Linked DNA regions of Homo sapiens. The protein of the gene in region 2 interacts with the protein of the main gene of each other region in a pairwise test. Each region holds a gene or a part of one and is shown on either strand. Other genes may lie near its edges.

Region 1 (7,688 bases), on a different chromosome or scaffold from region 2:
TGCTAGGATTACAGGCATGAGCCATGGCACCTGGCCACCCTTACCAATTTTTAACACTCCTCTAAAACAAAGATACTTAGCCTTGGAGCTGAGTATAAAACCTCCTTAGGGCTGGGTGCAGTGGCTCACGCCTGTAATCCCAGCACTTTGGGAGGCCAAGGCGGGCGGATCACAAGGTCAGGAGATCGAGACCATCTTGGCTAACACGGTGAAACCCCATCTCTACTAAAAATACAAAGAATTAGCCGGGCGCGGTGGCGGGCGCCTGTAGTCCCAGCTACTCGGGAGGCTGAGGCAGGAGAATGGCGTGAACCTGGGAGGCGGAGCTTGCAGTGAGCCGAGATTGTGCCACTGCAATCTGGCCTGGGCTAAAGAGCGGGACTCCGTCTCAAAAAAAAAAAAAAAAAACCTCCTTAGTCCTAGGCTTTGTTAGAAGCCTAGTCACTGACTGCTCTTGTCCTCACTTTTTCTGCTGGATGATAGGGCAAAGGACCCATGTAATTAACACAACGCCCTAAGAACACTGATGAAAGAGAGAAGGAACTTCTGGAACTAGGGACAGATTAATTCTGTTAATTATTATAAGACCTTGCTTTGTCAAAGGAATGACTTTGGTATTTTGACAATGTCAGTGGGCGTGTCCAACTTGCTAGAATATGCACCTGGCGGGAGGGGAGCAAAAGTTCTGGGAGAGTAGGGCAGAAAAGATTTGGCTTTTGATTCTAAAATCCATTCTAAGGCTCACCCTAACTCCCCCCAGATAGGAGAAGCCTGATGTTTATTTTCAAGATAATCAGATTCTTCCCAGTAGCAATCTTTTATAAAAAGGAAGAATCATCTACCAGAGCGACACAATTGTCATCCCTCACGTCCACAGAATGTGAATCCCCCTCACCCAACCCCTGCCTACCTAGTCCCTCTGAGGGGGGACTCCTTCCCTAGCCAGTCTCCAGAGGGTACTGACCTTGCCATGCTTGTGGTACTTGTGGTGCTTTTGGTGCTTGTGCATCTTTTTATGAGCTTTCTTCATTTTCTTCTGCATCTTCTTGTCTACTATCACTGCTGGTCCAACCATGCCAGGAGCCAAGGGATTCACAGGAGGGATTCCAGGGGCAGGCGGTGGGTATGGAGGAGGGTAGGGACCCAACGGTTGGCATCCTGGATACCCTGGCTGTGGCACAGGATGAGGGGGCCCACCTGGGGGGAAAGCTGGATTGCCATGGGGAGCTCCTGGGGGAGGAGGACAGGGGCCTGGGGGAAAGGGTGGATTAATAGGTGGTGGGTGGGCAGGATTGGAACCTCCAGGGCACCCAATATTGGGGGGATATGGATTTGGCCCTGGCTGCCCTGGTGGAAGAAGCAGAGAATAAACATTAGAATTCCCCAGAGTCTCCAACAACAAACAACAAAAAGAAAGAGATTCTTTCTCACTCAATACTTAAAGGGAAACGGAAAGATGACAAAGAAGAATGGAGGGTAGGGGAGACAAACTTGAGTTGGGGAGAAAAGGGGGAATGTCCCTGGAAGGGCTAGGGAGAGGAGGGAGACAGTGAACTCTGAGGAAGACAAAAGCACTGGTCAGTCCAGGCGCGGTGGCTCACGCCTGTAATCCCAGCACTTTGGGAGGCCGAGGTGGACAGATCTCATGAGGCCATGAGTTTGAGACCAGCCTGGCCAAATTGTGAAACCCCCATCTCTACTAAAAATACAAAAAGTAGCCGGGCGTGATAGCATGCGTCTGTAATCTCAGCTACTCCAGAGGCTGAAACAGGAGAATCGCTTGAACCCAGGAGGCGGAGGTTGCAGTGAGCCTGGGCAACAGAGACTCCATCTCAAAAAATAAATAAATTAAATTAAATTAAAAAGCACTGGTCAGCTCTAGACTAAGGACTTTGCTTTTGCGGGTACAGCAGGTCGGGGGTAGGGGAGCTGATACAGAAACTTCCTGTTATAGAGCCCATCAGAAAAAGGGTTAGGGGTGGAACAGAACCCCCAAACACCTACCGGCATTGGGATTCCACATGTTTAGGTGTGTCCTCCAGCCTGAGGAGAAAGAAATGAGGCAAAAAAGATGACGGTCTAGAGGTAGGAAGTGGACTTAGCACCGGAGCCCAGCCCTAACGTCTTCCACCCCACAGTAGGCTCTCCTACCTGGAGAACTACCACAACTTCCACATAAGAAATGTCTCTTTTCTGGCTGGGCGCGGTGGCTCACGCCTGTAATCCCAGCACTTTGGGAGGCCGAGGCGGGTGGATCACGAGGTCAAGAGTTCGAGACCAGCCTGGCCAACATCGTGAAACCCCGTCTCTACTAAAAATCTAAAAATTAGCCGGGCGCGGTGGCGGGCACCTGTAATCCCAGTTATTCGGGAGGCTGAGTCAGGAAAATTGCTTGAACCCGGGAGGCAGAGGTTGCAGTGAGCCGAGACCGCGCCACTGCACTCTAGCCTGGGCGACGGAGCAAGACACCGTCTCAAAAAGAAAAGAAAAGAAAAGAAATGTCTCTTTCCACTTGTTTCTTCGCCCTCAATACCTACTTGGTTCCTAACACAGGAATCTAGTTCCCAGGGCCCCTCCACCCAGGTGGAAGCGTCTAACTCTTCGGAAGTAGGCAGTACCCGCGAGTCTCGGCCCCACCATCACTCATCTCCCTTTCCCTGGAACTGAGTACGGAGGCCTTTAACCACGCACAGAGTAAGAAAGGATCTCAAACAACTTTCTCTCTCCCTGGGGAGGACCCCACCTCAGGCTAAAAAAAGGATACGCCTCGAGGCGAAGTAAGAAGGAAGTTGCCCAAGAACCTCAAATACTTAAATATGTGGACACAGCCCCCTTCCTCCAAAAAAGAAAAAAGGCAAATGAAGATCCTAGCCCCAAGCTGCGAAGAGACTCTTGACCTAGCAAGGGGAAAAGGAAAAACCTATGGAATCCAGATACCCCATCACCTTTCCACCGCCGCCTGGGCTTGCTGCGTTCTCCTTCGCAGTCTCGGCTCTTCCTAGTCACCCAGACCCCGTGCTTCGGCACCCGCCTCTGCTACTGCCTAATTGGTAATTATGTGGCCGCTCGACTGATGATTAGACAACAAACTAATCAATCACTCTGGTCCGACTGAGGAGGAAACGGTTGCTCTAGGGGCGGAGCGGAGCCCTTTACGGCTAGGCCAGTACCGAGAAGCCGGAAATCTCCTGGGGGCGGGGCTAGGCGGAGAGCGCTGGAGGGGGCGGGGCCAGCTGCTGGGCAAAGTCCTAGAGACACCGAGAAGAAACTCTTCCCTTGCTCTCTTACCTCATGGTTCACTGGGTGCAATACCTTGTAAAATGAATACACTATGGTAAGTGTTGTAATACAGATATAGACAGAGTTCTCGGCAAGGGCAGAAGAGCTGCTGAGTCCCAGCCCCAAGCCTCAATGTTCCCGGCTCCGTCTTACACTCGCAAGGGAAGCAAACAAACATTCTTGCGGAAGATACAGAGATTTCATAATCTCTCCCAGGATTCCCTCTCTCAATTGCATAGCTCCGCCATCTGTCAAGTAGCCTAAACCAGAAACCAAGGAGGGCGTCCGTGATCCCTCTGCCTCCTTCACCTCCCTTACCCCAAATTATCAGTTTTGTCTCTCAAATATATCTGGAATCTCTCCACTTCTCTCTGTCTTCCCTGCTCCAAACCTCCCATCATCTGTCGCCTGGATTCATCTCTCCCCTGAATTGCTACAATGGCCTCCCTACAATGGCCTCCCTTTTTTTTTTTTTTTTTTTTTTTGAGACGGAGTCTCGCTCTGTCACGAGGCTGGAGTGCAGTGGTGCGACCTCGGCTCACTGCAACCTCCGCTTCCCGGGTTCAAGCGATAATCCTGCCTCAGCCTCCGAAGTAGCTGGGACTACAGACGCGGCTAATTTTTCTATTTTTTAGTAGAGATGGGATTTCACCATGTTGGCCAGGATGGTCTCGCTCTCTTGACTTCGTGATCTGCCCGCCTCGGCCTCCCAAAGTGCTGGGATTATAGGCGTGAGCCACCGTACCCAGCCTTTAAAAAAAAAAAAAAAATACAAGTGGCCGGGCGCAGTGGCTCACGCCTGTAATCCCAGCACTTTGGGAGGCCGAGGCAGGCGGATCACAAGGTCAGGAGTTCGAGACCAGCCTGGCCAATATGGTAAAACCCCGTTTCTACTAAAAATACAAAAATTAGCCGGGCGTGGTGACATGTGCCTGTAATCCCAGCCACTTGAGAGGCTGAGGCAGGAGAATCGCTTGAACCCGGGAGGTTGCAGTGAACCGAGATCACGCCATAGCACTCCAGCCTGGGCAACAGAGCGAGACTCCATCTCAAAAAAAAAAAGAAAGAAAGAAAGAAAGAAAGTGAGCTAGGCATGGTGGCACATACCTGTAATCCCAGCTAGTGGGAAGGCTGAGGCATGAGAATCGCTTGAACCTGGGAGGGAGAGGGTGCAGTGAGCCAAGATCATGCCACTGCACTCCAGACTAAGCAACAGAGCAGGACTCTGTTTCAAAAAAAAAAAAAAAAAAAAGTGGGATACAAAAAAATTTAAGACAATAAATTTTATGCCAAATATGTCATATTAAACTAAAGCATTTGAAATATTTTAAACTTTTTTTCTTTTAATTTTTATTTTTAGTGCTGGGGTACATGTGCATGATGTGCAGGTTTGTTACATAGTTAAATGTGTGCCATGCTGGTTTGCTGCACAAATTTTGCTGCACCAATAAACCCATCAGCTAGGTATTAAGCCCAGCATGCATTAGCTATTTTTCCTAATATTCTCACTCCCCTGACCCTACCCCCCAACAGGCCCCAGTGTGTGTTGTTCCCCTCCTTGTGTCCATGTGTTCTTACTGTGTAGCTCCCACTTGAGTGAGAACATGTTCCTGCATGAGTTTGCTGAGGTTAATGGCTTCCAGCTTCATCCATGTCCCTATAAAGGACATGATCTCATTCCTTTTTATGGCTACATAGTATTCCATGGTATATATGTACCACAGTTTTTCAGTCTATTGTTGATGGGCATTTGGATTAATTCCATGTCTTTGCTATTGTGAATAGTGCTACAGTGAACATACACATGCATGTATGTTTGTAATAGAATGATTTATATTCCTTTGGGTATACACCCAGTAATGAGATTGCTGGGTCAAATGGTATTTCTGGTTCTAGATCTTTGAGGAATCGCCACATCGTCTTCCACAATGGTTGAACTAATTTACACTCCCACCAACAGTGTAAAAATGTTCCTATTTCTCCACAACCTTGCCAGCATCTGGATTTTGGTTTTGGGTTTTTTTTTTTTTTTGAGACTGAGTCTTGCTCTGTCGCCCAGGCTGAAGTGCAGTGGCAGGATCTCAGCTCACTGCAACCTCTGCCTCCCGGGTTCAAGCGATTCTCCTGCCTCAGCCTCCCGAGTAGCTAGAATTACAGGTGCCTGCCGCCACACCTGCCATATATATATACATATATATATTTGTATTTTTAGTAGAAACAGGGTTTCACCATGCTGGCCAGGGTGGTTTCAAACTCCTGACCTCAAGTGATTCACTCACCCTTGGCCTCCCAAAGTGCTAGGGTTACAGGCATGAGCCACCAGGCCTGGCCTGTTATTTCTTGACTTTTTAATAATCACCATTCTGACTGGCATGAGATAGTATCTCATTATGGTTTTGATTTACATTTCTCTAATGTTCAGTGATGTTGAGCTTTTTTTCATGTTTGTTGGCTGCATATCTTCTTTTTTTTTTTTTTTTTTTTTTTTTTTGAGACGGAGTCTCTCTCTGTCGCCCGGGCTGGAGTGCAGTGGCGGGATCTCGGCTCACTGCAAGCTCCGCCTCCCGGGTTCACGCCATTCTCCTGCCTCAGCCTCCCAAGTAGCTGGGACTACAGGCGCCCGCCACTACGCCCGGCTAATTTTTTGTATTTTTTAGTAGAGACGGGGTTTCACCGTTTTAGCCGGGATGGTCTCGATCTCCTGACCTCGTGATCCGCCCGCCTCGGCCTCCCAAAGTGCTGGGATTACAGGCGTGAGCCACCGCGCCCGGCCGGCTGCATATCTTCTTTTGAGAAATGTCTGTTAATGTCCTTTGCCCCCCCCTTTTTTTTTTGAGACGGAGTCTCGCCCTGGCCCCGTTGTCCAGGCTGGAGTGCAGTGGCACGATCTTGGCTCACTGCAAGCTCCGCCTCCCAGGTTCGCACCATTCTCCTGCCTCAGCCTCCCGAGTAGCTGGGACTACAGGCACCCGCCACCGTGCCTGGCTAATTTTTTATATTTTTAGTAGAGACGGGGTTTCACCCTCTTAGCCAGGATGATCTTGATCTCCTGACCTCGTGATCCGCCCGCCTCGGCCCCCCAAAGTGCTGGGATTATAGGCGTGAGCCACCGCACCTGGCCTTTTGCCCACTTTTTTTTTTTTTTTCCTATCTCTTTTTTTTTTTTTTTTTTAATTGATCATTCTTGGGTGTTTCTCGCAGAGGGGGATTTGGCAGGGTCATAGGACAATAGTGGAGGGAAGGTCAGCAGATAAACAAGTGAACAAAGGTCTCTGGTTTTCCTAGGCAGAGGACCCTGCGGCCTTCCCCAGTGTTTGTGTCCCTGGGTACTTGAGATTAGGGAGTGGTGATGACTCTTAACGAGCATGCTGCCTTCAAGCATCTGTTTAACAAAACACATCTTGCACCGCCCTTAATCCATTTAACCCTGAGTGGACACAGCACATGATTCAGAGAGCACCGGGTTGGGGGTAAGGTCATAGATCAACAGCATCCCAAGGCAGAAGAATTTTTCTTAGTACAGAACAAAATGGAGTCTCCTATGTCTACTTCTTTCTACACAGACACAGCAACAATCTGATTTCTGTATCTTTTCCCCACATTTCCCCCTTTTCTATTCGACAAAACCGCCATCGTCATCATGGCCCGTTCTCAATCAGCTGTTGGGTACACCTCCCGGACGGGGTGGCGGCAGGGCAGAGGGGCTCCTCACTTCCCAGAAGGGGCGGCCGGGCAGAGGCACCCCCCACCTCCCGGACGGGGCGGCTGGCCGGGCGGGGGCCGCCCCCCACCTCCCTCCCGGACGGGGAGGCTGGCCGTTGCCCACTTTTTAATGGGGTTGTTTTTTTCTCGTAAATTTGTTTGAGTTTCTTCTAGATTCTGGATATTAGACACTTTGGCAGATCACAAAAATTTTCTCCCATTCTGTAGGTTGCCTGTTTGTTCTGATGATAGTTTCTTTTGCTGTGCAGAAGCTCTTTAGTTTAATTAGATCACATTTGTCAATTTTTGCTTTTATTGCGATTGCTTTTGGTGATCCCATCATGAAATCTTTGCCCATGCCTATGTCCTGAGTGGTATTGCCTAGACAGTGTTCTTTTATTCTGAAATAATTTTAGACTCACAAGAAGTTGTAAAATTTACCCAGCTTCCCCCAGTGATAGTATCTTACATAACAAGACTATCTTTTGACTGAGTGGGGTGGCTCATGCCTGTAATCCCAGCACTTTGGGAGGCTGAGACTGGTGGATTCCCTTGAGCTCAGGAGTTCGAGACCATCCTGGCCAACATGGTGAAATCTTGTCTCTACAAAAAATAGAAAAATTAGCTGGGCATGGTTGTGTGCGCCCATAATCCCAGCTACTTACGAGGCTGGGGTGGTAGGATCACTGGAGCCTGGGAGACAGAAG
Region 2 (7,024 bases):
CGGGGTTCAATCGATTCTCTTGCCTCAGCCTCCCAAGTAGCTGGGATTACAGGCGCCTGCCACCACACCCGGCTAATTTTTGTATTTTTAGTAGAGGTGGGGTTTCACCACATTGGCCAGGCTGGTCTTGAACTCCTGACCTCAGGTGATCTGCCCGCCTCAGCCTCCCAAAGTGCTGGGATTATAGGTGTGACCCACCGCGCACAGCTATTTTTCTCTTCTATACTTCCTTCTTCAGGAAGAAACCTGGCTCCCACTATCCTTAATAGATTACTTATTTGGTCAATTCCCCTTATGTAACCAATTGCCCATTGTTGCCACTGCTGCCTCCTCCCCCATATCCTCTTAACTTCACTTGGAATCTGCCCTGCACCCCCACCCACGACTCCCATTGCCAGGCAGGCCCCCCCCAGACACATTTCTCTTTATACACAGGCTCTGGTACCCTATACCAAATTATACCTACTCACATACCCTGTGTGGATATTCTCTCCATGAGGAAACAACTTTTGTTAAACTGCCTCGTGTGGATATTCTCTCCATGAGGAGACAACTTTTGTTAAACTGCCTCGTGTGGACACCTTTGACCCAGCTTGGGATCTGACACCCTGCATTGGACTTCCCCACTACTGGATGACCTCTGCAACCTGCTGACATCACAAGCCAGTTCAAGCTCCTCTGTAGGTGCTCTCCTGACCCCACATTCAGCTCTAATATTTCAAAGCCAAGTTGACCCTCTGCATAGACACCTAGTGTGCTCTATTCTACCCAATACCTTTAGGATTGCATTGTTCAGGAAGGGAAGAGGAAGAACTATAAAAATGTCCATAGCATGATTTTTTTTTTTCATTTTTGAGACAGTGTCTGACTCTGCTGCCCAGACTGGAGTGTGATGATGTGATCATGGCTCACTGCAACCTGAATCTCCTGAGCTCAAGCCATCCTTCCACCTCAGCCTCTCAAGCAGCTGGGACCACAGGTGCGCACCACCACACATGGCTAATATTTTTAGTTTTTGTAAAGATAGGGTCTCACTATGTTTCCTAGGCTGGTTTCAAACTCCTGGCCTCAAGCAATCTTCCCACCTCAGCATCCCAAAGTGCTGGGATTGTAGGCATGAGCCACTGTGCTTGGCAGCATGATTTGCAGTATTCTCAAAATTGGAAATAATATGAAAGTAGAACAGAAGTTTGTGGTACAGAATACAGAGGAATACTTCATGGTAATAACAAAGAATAAATTACAGCTTCATTTAACATAAGATATAAGATAGACTCAAAACAATCCAAATTGAACGATTGAACGATTCTATACAAAGTTTAAAGAGACAGCCAGGTGTGGTAGCTCACTCCTGTAATCCCAACACTTTAGGAGGCCAGGTGGGTGGATCACTTGAAGCCAGGAGTTCGAGACTAGCCTGGCCAACATGGCAAAACTCTGTCTCTACTAAAAATACAAAAAATTAGCTGGGTGTTGTGGCACATGCCTGTAGTCCCAACTGCGTGGGAGGCTGAGGCCTATGAATTGCTTGAAACCAGGAGGCGGAGGGTGCAGTGAGCCGAGATCGCACCACAGCACTCCAGTCTGGGCAACAAAGTGAGAATCTGTCTCAAAAAAAAAAAAAAAAAAGACAAAATTAAACTCTAGTGCACAGATAGTAAACAAACCAAGGCCAGGTGTGTTGGTTCACACCTGCAATCCCAGCACTTCTTTAATGTTTTAAAGAAATCTTTACTCTTTTACTACATAGCTATATGATCTTCAGCAAGCTGATTTTTTTTTTTTTTTAATTACAATAGAGAAAAGGTCTCACTATGTTGCCCAATCAGGTCTCAAACTCCTGGGCTGAAGCAATCCTCCCTCCTTGGCCTCTCTCTTTTTTTTGAGACGGAGTCTTCCTCTGTCGTCCAGGCTGGAGTACAGTGGCGCAATCTCGGTTCACTGCAACCTCCGCCTCCCAGGTTCAAACGATTCTCGTGCCTCAGCCTCCCAAGTAGCTAGGACTACAGGGTGTGCCACCCTGCCCTACTAATTTTTGTATTTTTAGTAGAGACAGGGTTTCGTCATGTTAACCAGGCTAGTCTTGAACTCCTGACCTCAGGTGATCCTTGGCCTCGGCCCACCTTGGCCTCCCAAAGTGCTGGGATTACAGGCGTGAGCCACCACGTCCAGCCTGCGCTGCATTTTTATGGGCAAGAATCTTCTGCAATACTGTAAGTTTCCTATGACTTAAAGATTTGAGAAACAGTGCAAAGACAATGAAAGAAGCAGGCCCTCATAGAGTCACATAGCCAGGAAGGTTGGACTAGACAGAGCACTCAGTAATCGTCTTTTCTTTCTGTCCATTTCAAAGCCTTTCACGATTTTCCCTAAAAATGAAAATATGTGAGGGTGTTGGCGGTGGGGGTCCATAGTCTTCTTTTCCAAGCTTATAGGTTGTTTTCTCCATATTGAGAAACTGGTAGCTTGGGACCCTAGTCATTAAAAATATCCACCAGACATTCTGGAGTTTGTTTTTTATTGTTATAAATACGACATTCACAAATATCATCTAAAGCTCAGGTATGAGGCTGGACGCAGTGGCTCACGCCTATAATCCTGGCACTTTGAGAGGCCAAGGCAGGATCACCCGAGCTCAGGAGTTTGAGACCAGCCTGGGCAACACTGTCTCTAAAAAAAAAAAACAGAGAGAGAAAACAAATGAAGCCCAGGTATGATTAACATATTTTATATGTATGTTTTAAACACTCACAACTCACAAATCACCCCTAAAAATACTAATTTTCCATAAAGATTGCTGAGTTAGACAAACAAAATTTCGAAACAAACAAGATTACCATTTCTTTCTACCCAAATGAATTATCTATTCAAACAATATTTCATTTCTATTTGCTAAGGTAAGGCTGAGGGATGTATTGTAACGGTACAGGCTTTTTACGTGAAATGACGTTCTTTGATACCAAAAATACTAGGACACACTTGCCATATTGGCAAAGTTGTTTTTTTAATGCCTATTGTTGGCAAAAGCAGGGAATAGCCACTCTGTAAATGGACACCGCTGGTAAGAATGTAAAGTGGCACAAATTTTTCAAAGGGCAACTTGTTAATATGCAACAAAAAAATTTTAAATGTGCATACCAGCTGGGTGCAGTGACTCAGACCTGTAATCCCAGCACTTTGGGAGGCGAAGGCGGGTGGATCACTTGAGGTCAGGAGTTCAAGACCAGCCTGGCCAACATGGTAAAACCCGTCTCTACTAAAAATAAAAAAATTAGCTGCGTGGGGTGGTGCATCTGTAGTCCTAGCTACTTGGGAGGCTGAGACAGGAGAATTGCTTGAATCCCAGAGGCAGAGGTTGCAGTGAGCTGAAATCGTGCCTCTGCACTCTAGCCTGGGTGACACAGTGAGACTCCAGCTCAAAAAAAAAAAAAAAGAAAAGTACATACCAAAAAGAGAACATAAAAGATGATCATTTATCTAGAAAATACCTAAGAATCCAAACAATAGAGCAACTAGGCCAGGCACAGTGGCTCATGCCTATAATCCCAGCACTTTGGGAAACAGAGGTGGGAGGATCATTTGAGCCCAGGAGTTCAAGACAAGCCTGGGCAACATAGTGACACCCTGCCTGTACAAAAAATAAAATTGTGGCCAGGAGCGGTGGTTCACACTTGTAATATCCCAGCACTTTGGAAGGCCAAGGCAGATCACTTGATACCAGGAGTTCAAGACCAGCCTGGCCAATACAGCAAAACCCCAACTCCACTGAAAATACAAAAATTAGCCTGTAATCCCAGCTACTTGGGAGGCTGAGGCATGAGAATCACTTGAGCCTGGGAGGCAGAGGCTGCAAGGAACCGAGATCACGCCACTGTACTCCAGCCTGGGCCACAGAGCAAGACTCTGTCTCAAAAAAATATAAATAAAAAAATAAAATAAAATTGCTGAATGTAGTGGGTTGCAGCTGTAGTCTCAGTTACTCAGGAGGCTGTGGTGGGAGAATCATTTGAGCCAGGAGTTCAAGGCTGCAACGAGATATGATCATACAACTACACGCTAGCCTGTCTGACAAAGCAAAAGCCTGTCTTTAAAAAAAAAAAAAAAAAAGAGCTATTAGAACTAATAAATTAGTAAGGTCAGAGGACATAAGATCATTAGACACAAGACTACCAGCAACAACTGAAACTAAAAATTTTTTTTTTTTTGAGACGGAGTCTCACTCTGTCACCCAGGCTGGAGTGCAGTGGTGCAATATTGGCTCACTGCAAGCTCCATCTCCCGGGTTCATGCCATTCTCCTGCCTCAGCCTCCCGAGTAGCTGGGACTACAAGCGCCCGCCACCATGCCCGGCTAATTTTTTGTATTTATTATTTTTTTTTTCTGAGACAAGTCTCGCTCTGTCGCCCAGGCTGGAGTGCAGTGGTGCAATCTCGGCTTACTGCAAGCTCTGCCTCTCGGCTTCACGCTATTCTCCTGCCTCAGCCTACTGAGTAGCTGGGACTACAGGCACCCGCCACCATGCCCGGCTAATTTTTTGTATTTTTAGTAGAGATGGGGTTTCACTGTGTTAGCCAGGATAGTCTTGATCTTTTGACCTCGTGATCCGCCCGCCTCGGCCTCCCAAAGTGCTGGATTACAGGCGTGAGCCACCGCGCACGGCCTAATTTTTGTATTTTTAGTAGAGACAGGGTTTCACCGTGTTAGCCAGGATGGTCTCGATCTCCTGACCTTGTGATCCGCCCACCTCAGCCTCCCAAAGTGCTGGGATTACAGGCGTGAGCTACTGCGCCCAGCCTTTTGAAACTAAAATTTTTAAAAAACACTATTACAATACTTAGGGACAAATCTGACAAAAGATGTGCAAGACCTCTGAAAACTACAAAACACTGCTAAGAGAAATTAAAGATGACCTAAATAAATGGCGAGATATACATAAGCACGGATCAGAAAACTCAATACTGTTAGGATGTCAATTCTCCATAGGTTGATCTGTACACTCAATGCAATCCCAGCTGAAATCGCAGCAGCTTTTGGTAAGCTAATTTAAAATTTATCTGGAAATACAATCTAAAATAGTCAAAATAACTCTGAAAAAGAGCAAAATCAGAGGACTAACACGTGGATTCAAGACTTATTATGAAGCTACAGTAATCATGACACTACCATAGACTTTATAAATACTGTACATTAGGCTGCCCTAAATTTATAATTTTTTTAAATTTCAATAATAAATTAATCTTAGCTTACTACAATTTTACTTTATAACTTTTTTTTTTTTGAAACAGAGTCTTGCTCTGTCACCCAGGCTGGAGTGCAATGGTGTGATCTCGGCTCACTGCAACCTCCGCCTCCCAGGTTATAGTGATTCTCCTGCCTCAGCCTCCCAAGTAGCTGGAATTACAGGTGCCCGCCACGACACCTGGCTAATTTTTTGTATTTTTAGTAGATATGGGGTTTCACCATGTTGATCAAGCTGGTCTTGAACTCTGGACCTCAGGTCATCCACCCACCATGGGCCACCCAAAGTGCTGGGATTACAGGCATGAGCCACCGCACCCGGCCTACTTTATAACTTATAAATGTTTAAAACTTTTTGACTCTTTTGTAATAACCATTAACACACAAACACATTTATAGCTGTACAAAAATTTTTTCTTTCTTTATATCTTCATTCTATAAGCTGTTTTCTATTAAAATTTATTTTTCTTTTTAAACTTTTTTGTAAAAAACTAAGACACACACACATTAGCCTAGGTCTACACAGGGTCAGGATCATCAAGATGTCACTAGGCAACAGAAATTTTTTTAGCTCCATTATAATCTTATGGGACAACCATAGAATTAATATATGGGATCTGTTATGTGGTGCATGACAATATAGAGAGAGATCCAGTTATGGCCTGCATGGTTTGGTATTGTTCAACTTTTTTTTTTTTTTTGAGACAGACTCTCGGTCTGTCGCCAGGCTGGACTGCAGTGGCGAGATCTCGGCTCACTGCAACCTCCGTCTCCCGGGTTCAAGCAATTCTCCTGCCTAGCCTCCCGAGTAGTTGGGACTACAGGCGCATGCCACCACATCCAGCTAATTTTTGTAATTTTTGTAGAGATGGGGTTTCAACATGTTGGCCAGGATGGTCTCGATCTCTTGACCTTGTGATCCACCTGCCTCAGCCTCCCAAAGTGCTGGGATTACAGGCATGAGCCACCACGCCCCGGCCTTGTTCAACATTTTTATAAATGCCTTGTATGAGGACACAAATGTACATATTTATCAAACCTGCAGTTGACACAAAGCTGAGAGGGATACCTAATAACGATGGATGGCTGAATCAGGATCCAAAAGGTCTTGACAGGCTGCAACTCTGTGTCGAATCTAACAAGATGAAATTTAACAAGGACAAAGGTAAGTCTGACACTTAAGTCCAGAAAATCAATACAAGGCAGGGGAGGTCTGACTTGATGACAATTCAGGTAGAAAACAAGGTTTTTTAACTGACTGAAATCATAGCAAGGTTCAAAAACAAGGGAGTAAGAAAGAAATGGGGTTTAACTTTATAAATATTATTGTTTTTCAGCTCAACATAAACTTTTAGATAGATTTGAAAACACAACAGGCCACTTCAGGAGGTAAGTACACATTACTGGAAGTCTTCAAGCCAAGTTTGATGACGACTCTGGATGTTGAAGAAGGAGTAGTGGAATCTCATATAAGGTTTAATAGAAGAAATGACCCCAAATAATGCCTAGACTCCATAATTTACTTAATATAGGTAGATGTAAGTACAGTTTACAAGGTAAAAATAATTAAATCAATTATTTCATTCCAATTGATTTAGTAGACTGACTAGTTAAGTCTCCGAAAGATCTACTGAATGAGGAGTTCGTATTTAGACTTTTTTCCCCGTCTTCTTCTATTAGTCCAAAGACCTTTTTTTTTTTTTTTTTTTAAAGAACGATAAAGCCAGGTGCGGTGGCTCACACCTGTAATCCCAGCACTTTGGGAGGCTGAAGTGGGCAGATTACC
Region 3 (7,024 bases), on a different chromosome or scaffold from region 2:
TCCTGTGTATTACTGAATCCAGTTAAGGATACAGAAGGTGTTATCTTCCTGCCAAACTGGTATTGTTATTCACACAACATATTCAGCCCACTAGTCATTCCTCCCTTGATGAATCTGCAATGCTTAAAAACCTTCTGAAGTCTCAAAAAGAAATGAGTATGTGGGTGAGACTGATGGTAGTAAATTATACATTGTGGAATGATTTCCCTCTTTTTTTAAATTAGAAACTCAAATCAACCTCAGAGTTCCTCACATTAAATCATCTGCTTAAATCCTTCCAATAGATGTCTATCTCAGAAGAAAAGTAAAATTCCAGTGGCCTTAGATGCTCTAAGTAACCCGCCCTCCACCTCCCGCCCTGACTCAGCTGCTATATCTCTCCTCCGTACTCACTCCATTCCTACTCTACGTGAATCCTGCCACTCCTCGTTAGTCTGAAATCCTCCTTAGTCTGAAAATGGGGATCCAGTGTCAAACTAATAAATCACAGATAGCTATGCCTCTCTTTGTCCTGGACAAAGTTATATCCAAATGATAGTAATTGAGCCTTGAAATAAAAATTATGAACAAATTTTTTATTTAAAAACTGAAAGTAAATTATAAATGCCAGTGGGAAGATTAAATCAAACATGATTTGGCTAAAATTTACTGCATTTGCCCCATATTATAATAGAAGTAAAATTAGATGCCTTGAAAGAATAGAATGGTCATATCTATACATAATTTGAGATTGAAATAGTTTCAGATTTAAGTCAAATTGACATGAAGAAAAACAAAATTTTACCAACTAAGACATATTTAAAGCTACTGAAGAAAAGTAATTATGAAATAGGGAATACACTTCAGTTCATCTAGGAAATCTGAAATTCACTGTCAAAGTACCCCACTTAATTGAATCAATTTCAAAATACCATTTTAGGTATGAGCATTTCCATATACCTGATTTATCATGGTCTTAAAATGTTGCAACATAAATACATTAAAATTATTACTTCAGCAGTATAAGACTACATTATTAATGTTAGTCTATGTTAACATTTTATAACTTAAAATTTTATAAGCGACACATTGACTTTAATCAGAGGAAAGCATCTCTCAGTTCTAACTTTGACTTGCTGGAGACAAGGAATGTTTCTAAGCAGATATATTTATCATATGTATCCTTTTTTATATTCAACTAGATCCAACATTCAGCTGTAACCAAATATTACTTTAAATTTTACTTCAGGAAGTTTGAAAAATACTTATTTTTCTTGATACTTACTTCTCTTTCTGCTTTCTCTTTTTCATATTGGCATTCTTTTTCTTTCGAATGATTCAGTTCATTGACCAACATTTTATTGTCTTCTTCTAGTAAAAGACGGTGCTTTCTGCACTCAGCTTGAAGGTTTTGTACTCTAGCATCACATCTGGCTTGAATATTAAGTATTGCTTTTTCTTGATTGTCAGCTTTGTTGCGAGCATCATCCAGTTGCTGTTGAAGCAACATATTTTGTTTTTTTAGTTGACAAAATCTTTCCTGTTTTTCTATGCATTTTTCCATTGTATTGTATCCACTTTTGTACATTTTTTCAATGTCCTTCATTTGACTCTGTTTTTGCTTTAGCTCACTTTGCACGTGTTCAAAAACCAAAGCCTTTTCTTTCAGAGCCTCTCCTGTGTAATGGAGCTCAGTTTTGAGGACTCTGGACTTACTCTCAGCTTTAGAAAGTTGCAGAGAAAGAATCAGAACATGAGAATTCAAATTTTCCTGTAAGTGACGACATTTATCTACTGTGCCCTGGAAAGCAAGCTCTTGGTCTCTTTTTGATGAGTGACTTTGATCATGATCACATCGAGCAGCATTCAGTCTACAACGGTATGATTGCATTTCTGTTTCCAGTCTTTGCCTGCTCTCTCTTTGCTTCTCCAGTTTGGAACGGAGCGTTGTGTTTTCATCTGTCAGAGCAGCAAGCTGTCCACTATAACAGGCTATCGTTTTTGCTAATGTTTCCCCATTCCGTTTTAGAGCCTTTTGAAGGTCTTCATGCTTTCTTTTCACAATTTCAAAGTCTTTTAAGTATTTCTTTTCCAGGTTTTGGTTTTTTATTGTGTCTTTTTCCAGCCTGAGCCTGGCAATTTCATCTTGCATCAAGCGGTTTTCATGCAGCAGGTCTTCTTTTTCATCAGTTTCAGAAACCTAAGTAAAACAAAGCAAACTTGTAACTAGTATCCAATAGGATAACATATTGTGATTGCTTCTGAAATTAAATAATAACCCGTACATTTATACAATGAGAGGTTGCCATAACTGGATATCTAACTGGGAAAAAAGAAGTTAAGTCAAAACCTCAAACCTCATACAGCATAAATTCCCCAAAGTTCAAAAGTTTATTTGAAGACAGTGAATCCATGAAAGCAAAAAAGAAGCCACTAGATAATTTTTTTAAATTTCAGGATAAAAAAAGGCTTTTACTGAATTACAACAAATTGCAAGGCATAAAGAATTAATAACTATGACCACATTAAAAAATTGGGTTTACACTCTAACATCTAAACTATACCTCTCCCTATAGTGAGAGCCTTAGCTTGGCAGATATTTGGACAGATGAATGACATTTTCCAAATTCTTTAAGTTCCCTTTTTCTAAAATATTGTATAGATATTCTACTTTTCTAATATTGTTATGGTCAGTTTTAAGAATGACATTTATTGATAAATGATAAAGCTAGGCATTATACTAAGCACTTTTACGTGCACAAATCAATGAACTCATTTAGTTATAATTCTATAGCAAAAGGTTAAAAATATAAGCAAGCTGCAGGATTTTTCCCAGCTTTTCTGACTCTATTCCTAGTGCTCTTCCACCAAATCAGTAACTTCTGTGAGGTAGATATATACATACAAAAATAATCTTTTATTTCAAGACACCAAAAGTCAAGAAAATTAGATCTATAAAACTCTTCTTAGAAAATCATGACATTATTTGCTATTGTGATAACTTTTATTCCTTTTCCATAACATTTGAAATGTAATTAACATGAAATAGGGGAAATATGCTGAACTATGTCACTAGGAACAAAATACTTACAATATCATTAAGTATATATTGTAGAATAGCATTGTTTTCAAAAGGCCTTTGAACTAAAATAAAATATTTCAAGATTTATTATAAATAATTATAGCTATAAATGCCATGATTCATTTTTAAGATGAAATAAAATTTGGGGATTGTTCAGGCCTAAATAATATATGTTAAATGAAAGAGATGGTATAAGTAATATTAATAAGAGTAGAAATATGAAGTTTTACCAAACATTAATTTACCTGATTTGAATTATTTCCTCCTGTCTTCAATTCCACCTCTGCTGATTTGAGAGCCGGTTTAATTGGTTTTGTCACATCAGCTTCTATCCTATATTGCTCTTCTGTTATTCTTAACTTTTCCCTAACTTTTTGGTGCAACTCTTCAACATTTCTTCTTTTCTTTTTTTCTTGCTGTATGGCAAATCTGTAAATATACTTATCTTAGAATTTATCTTATCAGTGAGGACTAAGCTCTAATTTTTTATCTTGCCCAAATTCCTACCTAAGGGGTCCAGGGAGTCGTGCCCTACAAACCATGGATTCTCATCAGATGGGTTTTATTTGACCCTGTATATTGTGACTTGCTTTTCAATCTGACTCTGGCATAACCTTACGAGACAAGGAAGAAAATATTTAATCCAAAATATATTTCCTTGCCATGCCTTGAAATTGCCCTGCAAAGTCTCTTGTGGGAAAAATCCACATTCTATAGAGAACCCCCTTTCCCCTTTGTTTTCCTTCCTTTCTATGCAGATCCAGGGGATATTCAGCTGAGAGCCAGGCACCCTTTTGGGTCCGATAAGAAACATTTTACAATCTGCTCTCTCTGAAGTCTGCTGAGAGATTCCTCTGCACAGTAAAACTTGGTCCCCACAATCATTTATCTTAACCTGAACATTTCTTTCCATTAATCCCAGGTCTTCAAATAAACTCAAGCAATTGTCAACCAGAAAATGTTTAAATTTACCTACAGCCTGGAAGCCCCAGCTTTGAGTTGGCCTGCCTTTCTGAACCAAATCAATGTATTTCTTACATGTATTTGATTGCTGTCTCATGCTTCTCTAAAATGTATAAAACCAAGCTGCACCCCGACCACTTCGGGCACATGTTCTCAGGACCTCCTGAGGGCTGTGTCGGGGGCCACGGTCACTCATATTTGGCTCAGAATAAATGTCTTCAAATATCTTACAGAGTTTGACTCTCTTTGTTGATATTAGAAAATAAAACATTCATATGTTGGTTTATTATCCTAATAAAGTTTCTATGTTCTTAAATACTATTTTTCTTTCTAGTTCTCATGTTTTTAATTTCTCACCTCAATCTCATCCAAAGGGCATGTATAAGTTGAAATGTATTGATAAAAGAACATCCTGCATAAGTTTCTATTACTAGTAACTCTAGCAAATATTATGAAAAAGGACGTTGAAAATTATTCAGTAAAGTTACAAGATAAAAATTATCTTTTCTTCACAGTAATTACTCCTCAATTAGGATGAATCATTTAGAGTTAATTAACATAAAGTTACTTTTTATAAACAAGTTGGTACATTCACTAGAAATACATTTTCATCTTCATGAAACATTCATTGCAAGTATCCCTAAACATAATTTACATTGCAAGATAGCATTTTCGATGTCTTTATGAAACATATATCAGCAGATTACTGTAATCCAAGACTAGGTTAAGAATGTAATATGTTACCCTACACTTTTTAAGATTGTTTTTTGGGTAACACTTTCAGTCTATCCTGCTGATTAGTATGTACTTTATAACCAATTGTAAAATCTGTTTTGGAACAACACAAGATCTAATATTTAATTAAACAATAAAGAATAATACATGTCTTCAGCATAAAACTGAATTAATTTTATCTACATAGCAGAGAGATGTTGAATAAGCTAATCAGTAATCACTTTACATTTTACTTTTTATTCCCTGCATATTAAGAATAAAACTGGATACATTTTTTTTTTTTTTTTTTTGAGAGGGAGTCTCCTACTATCACTGGGCTGGAGTGCACTGGTGCAATCTCTGCTCACTGCAACCTCTGCCTCCCAGTTTCATGTGATTCTCCTGCCTCAGCCTCCTGCGTAGCTGGGATTACAGGTACAACCACCATACCTGGCTAATTTTTTGTATTTTTAGTAGAGATAGCATTTCACTGTGTTGGGCAGACTGGTCTCGAACTCCTGACCTCGTGATCTGCCCACCTCGGCCTACCAAAGTGCTGGGATTACAGGCATGAGCCACTGCACCCGGCTGATAATTTTTAAAATAATTATTCTGGGTAAAGAAAAATATCTGTTTTATACTCTGTTGGTTGAATTATAAATTAATATGAACATCCTTAAGAACAATTTAGAAATATTGATCACAGATCTAAAACAGATCTAAAAAAGTTTCTATACTTTAACCAGAAGAATTTATCCAATGTAAATAATTAGAAATGTAGAAAACTATGTGTATATAAAAGATGTTCCTTGTAGCATTATTACAAAAACTTTTTAAAACCTGAAATTCAATTCATCAATTAAATAATGAGATTTCCAAAAGGTAAAATTCTATACAGCCATTAAAACTATGATTTAAAAGAATATGCATTTAATTATTAGAGAAGTATTCACAATTAAGAACTTGTGATATTATATCCAATAATTTCACACTCCATAAGATTAAGAAGCTTTCTTCCCTGTTAAATCCTAGAAGGAAAGTTCGCAATTACAAAACTTCTCCTTATACGTCTTTAATATAAAACAAACAGTTCAAACATTTATTTAAAACTAGGTCATACCTCAAACTACAGAGTTCTTTTTCCAATTCAAGTATTTCATGCTTTAACTGCGATTTTATTTCTTCTTTTTCAGATATTCTCTTTTGTAGTACACTAGCCTTATTTTTCAGTTTTCGAATTTTTACTCTAAGTTGCTCACAGTGGTTATCTTTAAGTTTTATTAATCTTTTCCATAAACAAAATGTATTTTTAATTTTCAATAGGTGAACACAATCTGTAACCAGGAAAAAACAAACTAGAGATAAAATACATGAGTAGATTTTTGGATATAAAGGACTGTGCATTTTTAACATGTATTCATTCATACGTTGAACAAGTATGTACATATTGAGTGCCTACAAGGTGGAAGATATTATAGTAAGGTCTGCAGATAAGACAACACCTCTGCTATTGTTTTAGCTTAAAGTATAGTGAAGAACCAAGATAAAAAGGTGACAGTTATAAACTCAGATAGGTCCTGTAAAAAAAAAAAAAAAAAAAAAACATAGTTATGTGATTGCATAAGATAATTTGATCTATACTTCACCCAGGGAAGATTTCCCTGAGGAAGAGATGCTACACTGAGAAATGAAGGATGAGAAAGAAGCAGTTAAGCAAAGAAGAAAGCAAAGCACTCTGGCTAGTTTGCAGCATGTGCTGTGCTGAAGCTCTGCTGCAATCTGTTACTAGCTCTGATGGAGTAACAGATACTGATTTTTCATCTTATCTGAATGAATAAAAAACAAAACAGACACAATACATTAAACTGATTTTCAACACAGTGGACTTCAGGCAATGAAGATGGTAGGTGATCACTGAAAGACAGAAAACAAATACAGCAGGCCTTACAAATATCCCAGCTCTTTTGACAGAGTTTTGACGGAGGTTCGAGGCCATCACAAAGGGAGAAAATCTGACATAGAGCTGGGGTGATGACGCTGAGAGGCCAGTAAAACCAAAGCAGATAGAGATCACAGGACAGAAAACTGGAGAGAAAAAAGCAGTACAGGAAACAAATCCTGGAGATGTGCAGAGATTCCCTCTTGGGTATTTAGTGGAGTAATGAAAAGTGCTTGTGTACTAGGAAACTTCCTAAGAACAATGAAAAATAAAATAAAAAAAAACAACAGTTAAAGAACATTAGCAGAAACGATGTCTGGGGTTCACACAATGACTGGAAGAGGGTC

Evidence for each region. The genes of interacting proteins can lie anywhere in the genome.
Region 1: the proteins of ZCCHC10 (region 2) and PRR13 interact in binary tests that used the Homo sapiens proteins (3 or more experiments, as listed by UniProt).
Region 3: the proteins of ZCCHC10 (region 2) and ANKRD36B interact in binary tests that used the Homo sapiens proteins (3 or more experiments, as listed by UniProt).

The regions. Positions count from the first base shown.
Region 1 is NC_000012.12:53,437,050-53,444,737, reverse strand, and holds the start of PRR13 (proline-rich protein 13), read right to left. Parts: upstream 3,005-7,688; 5' UTR 2,946-3,004; intron 2,044-2,945; 5' UTR 2,024-2,043; coding exon 2,005-2,023; intron 1,348-2,004; coding exon 965-1,347; intron 1-964. UniProt on the Homo sapiens protein: Negatively regulates TSP1 expression at the level of transcription. This down-regulation was shown to reduce taxane-induced apoptosis.
Region 2 is NC_000005.10:133,016,534-133,023,557, forward strand, and holds part of ZCCHC10 (zinc finger CCHC domain-containing protein 10), read right to left. Parts: intron 6,374-7,024; coding exon 6,308-6,373; coding exon of another isoform or gene 6,278-6,307; intron 1-6,277.
Region 3 is NC_000002.12:97,509,874-97,516,897, forward strand, and holds part of ANKRD36B (ankyrin repeat domain-containing protein 36B), read right to left. Parts: exon of another isoform or gene 6,079-7,024; intron 6,073-6,078; coding exon 5,859-6,072; intron 3,491-5,858; coding exon 3,307-3,490; intron 2,180-3,306; coding exon 1,265-2,179; intron 1-1,264.